2 linked regions of the Homo sapiens genome follow. The protein of the gene in region 1 interacts with the protein of each later gene in a pairwise test. Each region holds a gene or a part of one and is shown on either strand. Other genes may lie near its edges.

Region 1 (3,830 bases):
ATTATAAAGTCTCAACAATAAAGCTGTGTGATACTGGCACATGAATATAAACAGACCAATAGAACAGAATAGAAAATCTTGAAATAACCCAAAATATAAATGGCAATCTTGTATAGAATAAAGAAGTCTTCTTAAATCAGTGCGAAAAAGCTGGTTTCTTCAACAAATGATGGTAGGACAACTGGAAAGCCATCTTTCAAAAAATGAAATTGGATCCATATCTCATATTTAATACCAGACTGGATTAAAGATTTGAATGTAAAAAATAAAACCAACGAAGTACTAGATAAACCAAGAGAGAATTATTTCATAACCTCAGAACAGGAAAGCCCACTCTTTTTTTTGTCCCCCAAGGGTATTTAGGTACTTAGTGTATGTAGAGGGGGAAAAAAAAAGAATGGGCTTTCCTATTCTGAGGTTACAAAATAAAGGTCCAGAGAACTCCCAGGAAAGCCCATTCTAACATAAAATACATTCTGACATAAAACCAAAAAGCCATAAAAGAAAAATCCGATACATTCAATTGTGTAAGAATCATTTCTTCATAAGGGTGGGGGGAATACCATAAGAAAAATGAAAATACTGGCAACTGTTGCAGATAAAGGGTTCTTTACTTAAATACTAAGAGTTCCTTAGTATGCTTTGCTTAATATACTAATAGTTCCTACAAATCACTAAGAAAAAGATCCAAGAACCCAATAAAAATGGGCAAAAGGTATGTACAGTTCACAGAAAAGGTTATATTTAAATGACTCTTAAAAATGAAAAGATGTTCAATCACACTTAATGTAAAAGATATTAAAAAAAATTAAATTAAGACACCATTTTTACCTTTCAGATTGTCTGATCCAAAATTTCGTGATAATTCATTATGTGTGGGGAGACAGGCACTCTCATATATTGCGGGCGAAGTACAGACAGGTAGGGCAATTTGGCAATATCTTTCAAAATTACAAATACACGTACCTTTGACCTAGCAATTCTATGTATTTTTCTTACAGATATGCTCATACACAAGCAAAATGGCTTATACTCAAGATCATTCACTGCAAAATCACTTGAACTAGCAAAACTTGGGGAATAATTAAATGAGTTATGATTAATTCAGGCATTATGCAGCCATAAAAAGAATGAGGTACCTCTTTACAAAATGAAAGGAAAATATATCTGAGATACATTAATAAGTGAGGGGCGGGGGGAAGAAAGAAGAAGCAATCTCAAAGTGCAGATAAAAATCAGTTCTAATGGGTTATCATACGTGTAAAAATAGAGAAAAATGCATATATACAGTAAAAACCTATGATATCATTTCAGATATAAAGCAATTTACCGGCTCCAGACCCCCAGAACTCATGGCCAACTTCATTTGCAGGTTTGTTCTGGTCATTTCACTAACCTCACAGAAATATAACCCTGAATTTTTTGTAAACTAGATTTCTTGGATCCCACTTATGGCAGGATTTTTACATATCTATCTATCTCTACATTTGCTTCTATGCACGTGGAATAGGTATGGAAAGATACATAACAATTTCAAGTATTTATTGATTGGGAAGAGGGACCATGCCTGCCAGATGGCAAGTTGTAGAGGCAGGGAGGAAGAGTAAGAGAGAGCTCATGGAATATCTTTTTATACTCTGAATTTTGGAACAAAGGAATATATTACCTATTTTTTAAAATAAATAACATATTTAAAAAAATGTGTTAATGTTTTCAATAACATGAGAAAATACACTTAAGAGAAAAAAAGTAGAATGTAAAATATATGCAGTTTGATACCAAATATGTATTAATACAAAAAAATCTGTACACAAAAAAGACTGGAATAAAACACAATAAAATATTAAAAGAATAATTATCTCAGCCAGGTGTGGTAGCACACTCCTGTAGTCCCAGTTATTCGGGAGGCTGAGGTGGAAGGATCCCCTGAACCCAGGCAATGGATAATATGTAAGCTATGATTGCGCCACTGCACTCCAACCTGGGCATGAGCTATGATTGCGCCACTGCACTCCAACCTTGGCAACAGAATGAGACCCCGTCTCTAAAATATAATATTTAAAAAAAAATGATAGTTATCTCTAAGAGGTAGAATTACAAATGATTTTAATTTTGGCTTTTCCTAAAATTCTAATTCTTTATGTTAAGCACAAATTATATTCATAATCAGAAAAAGGGTATTAATTTTTAATGACAGGAATCAGAGGTTAGAAATTCAAGTGGAAGGTACAAAGTTATTAGGTATTATTCAGGGTTCTAAGCATCATATATGAAATTCAAATTTCCTTCAGACATCACTTCCAATCACAGCACCAAAAAAAGTATGCATAATAAGCTTAGGAAAAATATGAAAAAAAAAATCTCATCTGTCCTCTGGTCTATCTCTTAAGGATTACTATGAAATTATTTTCATCCTCCTACTTTATGGATGTTTTGTCCATTTTTGTTTTCTGTTACCTAGGTAATGGTATTTCCAGCATTTCCCTTAAAAGACTGTGAAACTAACAATCTGGTATTTCTCACTGTCGAGTTTTCCTGACCTTCAGCTTTGAGAGGCCATCTCCCTAAGGGAAGGCAGCAAGATCTAGAAGCTAAATCAGGAGGCTAAGGAATCTGAGGTTAAGAGTTCCAATCCTGACAAACTGTGGAGTCTGTCTCCAATTTTGGGAATAAGCTAAACTTCCTGAGCCAGTTTCTTCAATGAGAAAACCTAAAGGATTGCTTTGAAAAATATCAAAAACTATTGACTTTAAGGTTTCATTTTAACTTTTCAGACTACTCTTCCGAATTTTGTTATCTTATCTATGTTGAATGTTTTCCCCTCACTAAATTTTCACTCTCTCAATCAATATCTATAAGTATTACCAATCCCTTAGACTCAGGGATGGAGGTAAGGGGTACTTTTAGAAAGTCTGCTACAAGTGACACAATGTGAATGGAACTCGAGCAATGTTGAAGATAATTTATGGAGGGGTAAAAATACAATCAGGATCTAAACTGAACCCTTATGAGCAAAGCCAACAAAGACAATTAATTGATGTTACTAACACCTGGTAAGGGAAGGTAAAATTCAGACAGCTCATATCTGAACCCAGCTGTAGAGATTAGGAAAGTGATAACTTCTGTATCATAGTCTAGCAAATGAAATGTTTTTATGCCTTTAAGGGTTCAATTTTTATTTCTTTTGTTTACTGTATACTCACTAACACCACTGCACTGGGCCTCAAGACTTCTCTTTTCCCTTCTACTTGTGAACCACATTACTTCTTGATGGGCTGCCCTCTCACTATAAAATAAACTACATGAAATTTGCAAAAGGGTTTTCTACATGCTAGCCTTAAGAAGTACTTGACAGCCTTTGGGAAGAAAGGTGTTTTTACAAACATCAGACAGCAATTATCCCTCTACCAAGATAGGGTGAAGCAATTTTAGCAGTGCCCTTAGCACACTTCAAACTCCTCCTCCTGGTTAACAAGACCAAACAACTCTCTAGTTAGTTAAAAGTTTTTCCAATAGGGAGGGACAAGGGAGCAAACAGCTGAAGTTTTTCTGAATTAACTGTCATTAGTTGAATGCTTTTTTGTGGTTCACCTACTTAAAAGGTGATCAAATCACTTTGTGCTACTGAAGAAAGCAACTGCAAAGAACAATTACATAAACCCTCTATTTCAACTTACCTCATCCTTCCTTCTAATGAAACAAAGGATCCGAAACCACTACCTTGCCACCATTTCCTTAATAATCTTGGTAAAGCCTACTATGTCATGTGAATCTCTTTTCTTTTTCTTAGCAAACCACAGAAATTTCACTCACTATAGTAGGAAACACAA
Region 2 (3,205 bases), on another chromosome or scaffold:
TATCAAATTAACTTATTTTGAAATAAAAATTTTCTTATATATGCAAATAAAGGTGTTTAAATGTATAGCACTGATGCAGCAGGTGACTTCTGTTCTAAGCTGGCAGAGCACAAAATTCTCCTTTCCTATAATGTCTGTGTTGCAGACGATTCTATCTGCCATAGGAGAATTTTGTCTCAGACAGAAGTATTTCATTTTGTATTAACTATAAATAGTCCAGAGATTTTTGGTAATATAGAGTTAATTTTATAATATCTATATAAATTTCCTTTTAAGTACATTTCCACATATAGGTCTACTTACCTAAGACATTTAGAGTACAGTTTAAAGTCTGTGACATGTTTTCTCTTTAGTTTTGTACAAATTTATCACACTAAGTTTGAAGAAAAATATACTGTTTCAACCAATTATAAAGCATATTCTAGGATAGTTGAATAAAACAGATACTTGAAAGTTATTCACTTAAGTCATCCATTTCCTTTTACAAGTGAACATCCTTCCATATTCTTAAGCAGTAACTAAGTGTTTCATAGTATGCAGTTACATTTTATTGAGACTGCTGCTGTTTTTTTCCAATATATTTCATGAAAGTATAGTTATGTTGCTTTAACAACTATCCAAATTCCTTTTGGGCAGTGCTCATTTTATTACATTGCCAGTCTTGAACTGAATTTTTTTTTGCCCTATCGTATCCAACCCTGAAGTTTTCTTAAGTTAGCATAAGTGTCCAAGTCATCTACCCTAGTTTTAAGAATTATATACATTTTTTTCAAAATTAATAATGTATGCCTGATAAGCTAATTTGCTTATGAGGCAAGAATCATAGTTCTTTTCCTTCATCCGATCATTTGTCTTTGCTCAGTCCCTTGGCTGTGCTCCACTCCAACCACCTTCTTTATGGAGTAGGGACCAAGGGATTTAGGGCAGGAGTGAAGGAATTCCAAGCACTCTTCCTACTGATAACAGTTCACAGCCAACTCTGTCACATAGAAGGGACCAGGCACCACTCTAGGCACATCATTGTGGTTGTAGACTTCATAAACCAAATAGAAAATGGAACTTTTTTTCCTCTGGTTTTAAGCAATGGTTGCATTTGGTTACTAATAGTGTATCTGTTTTGGAATATTTTTACAAGACAGGAGGGTCAATTTTTTTATGGAAAGTTGTCACATTACTCAGTTTTTGTTTTTTGTTTTTTGAGGCGGAGTTTTGCTCTTGCCCAAGCTGGAGTGCGGTGGTGCGATCTCAGCTCACTGCAACCTCTGCCTCCCAGGTTCAAGCAATTCTCCTTCCTCAGCCTCCTGAGTAGCTGGGATTATAGGCGCGCACCACCATGCCCAGCTAATTTTTTGTATTTTTAGTAGAGACAGGTTTCATTATGTTGGCCAGGCTGGTCTGGAACTCCTGACCTCAGGTGATCCACCTGCCTCAGCCTTACAAAGTGCAGGGATTATAGGCTTGAGCCACCGCGCCCAGCCTCACATTACTCAGTTTATTCAACAAAGGAGAGCTTACATTAAAAGTCAGCTGTGCCGGGCATGGTGGCTCACGCCTGTAATCCTGACACTTTGGGAGGCTAAGGTGGGCAGATTGCCTGCACTCAGGAGTTTGTGACCAGCCTGGGCAACATAGTGAAACCCCATCTGTACTAAAATACAAAAAATTAGCTAGACCTGGTGGCACACGCCTGTAGTCCCAGCTACTCAAGAGGCTGAGGCACAAGAATCACTTGAACCCGGGAGGTGGAGGTTGCAGTGAGCCAAAATCGTGCCATTGCACTCCAGCCTGGGTGACAGCACAAGACTTGGTCTCCAAAAAAAAAAAAAAGAGGGGGTGGGCAAAGAACTCTCAAAATTTATTTTTCCAAGTAGAAGACAGAAAGATGGAGTCTTCGTCTTAGGAATAAAATATGCTAATAGAATTAATTTTATCTATAAAATTGAATTTCCATAGTAACATTAATTTTAGAAAACACACTTAAAAGAACAATGAAACCACATCATCATCATAGATGGGTGTTAGAATTTTATTTATATAGATTTAGCATAAGTTATAAGTATGGATTTCTTAAGTTCATGCTGAAATGTGATAGAACTGGGCATGAACAAATTTGTTAATTCTGTACAATTCTCCTTCTTACCATTTCAAAACTTGCATGAATGAAATAAGCTCTTTGATTTTGAGGGATTTAAAAATGGATTTAATTAGAAAGGATTTATTTAGAAAGAAGTTTTTAAAGACTGTAGGTGTTTCATGTTATTTAAACCACCGGAGTAACAAACTACACAAAGCTACTTTTTAGTTTCTAAATTTACATGCTTGCCCCTAAAAGGGAAGAATAATTGAGACAGGAAGAATAGGGGGTATTAAGAGTAAATATAAACTGATTTTTCAGTGCTCCCTTTCTTTTGCAGGTAAAAACAAATGGAATCTCTGATGGCAAAAGAGAATCACCATTAAAGATTGACCCATTTGAAGATCTGTCATTTAATCTGCTTGCTGTATCAAAGGCTCAGCTATCTGTTCAAACGTCACCTGTTCCCACCCCAGACCCAAAGAGGTTGATTCAGTTGCCTTCTGCAACGCAAAGTAATGTTTTGAGTTCTGTAAGTTGCATGCCAACAATGCCTCCAATTCCAGCTCGGAGTCAATCCCAGGAAAATATGCGAAGTTCTCCAAACCCATTTATTACTGGCTTGACCAGGACAAATCCTTTCAGTGACAGGACTGCTGCTCCTGGAAACCCATTTAGAGCCAAGTCTGAAGAATCAGAGGCAACTTCATGGTTCTCCAAAGAAGAGCCCGTTACTATCAGTCCTTTCCCTTCTCTGCAGCCTCTTGGTCATAACAAAAGCAGGGCTTCATCTTCACTTGATGGCTTTAAGGACAGTTTTGATCTACAGGGCCAGTCTACATTAAAAATTAGCAACCCGAAAGGATGGGTAACCTTCGAGGAAGAAGAGGATTTTGGTGTGAAAGGGAAGTCAAAGTCAGCTTGTTCAGACTTACTGGGTAATCAGCCAAGTTCATTTTCTGGCTCCAACCTGACATTGAATGATGACTGGAATAAAGGTACAAATGTCTCCTTCTGTGTGTTGCCGTCAAGAAGACCTCCTCCACCTCCTGTCCCTCTGCTCCCGCCCGGCACCAGCCCTCCAGTAGATCCTTTCACGACCTTGGCCTCTAAGGCTTCACCCACACTGGA

Evidence for each region.
Region 2: the proteins of RASAL2 (region 1) and SYNJ1 interact in a two-hybrid assay, tested with the Homo sapiens proteins (one large-scale study listed by BioGRID and IntAct).

What each region holds. Positions count from the first base shown.
Region 1 is NC_000001.11:178,100,554-178,104,383, reverse strand, and holds part of RASAL2 (ras GTPase-activating protein nGAP), read right to left. Parts: intron 1-3,830. UniProt on the Homo sapiens protein: Inhibitory regulator of the Ras-cyclic AMP pathway.
Region 2 is NC_000021.9:32,631,011-32,634,215, reverse strand, and holds part of SYNJ1 (synaptojanin-1), read left to right. Parts: intron 1-2,395; coding exon of another isoform or gene 2,396-3,205. UniProt on the Homo sapiens protein: Phosphatase that acts on various phosphoinositides, including phosphatidylinositol 4-phosphate, phosphatidylinositol (4,5)-bisphosphate and phosphatidylinositol (3,4,5)-trisphosphate. Has a role in clathrin-mediated endocytosis.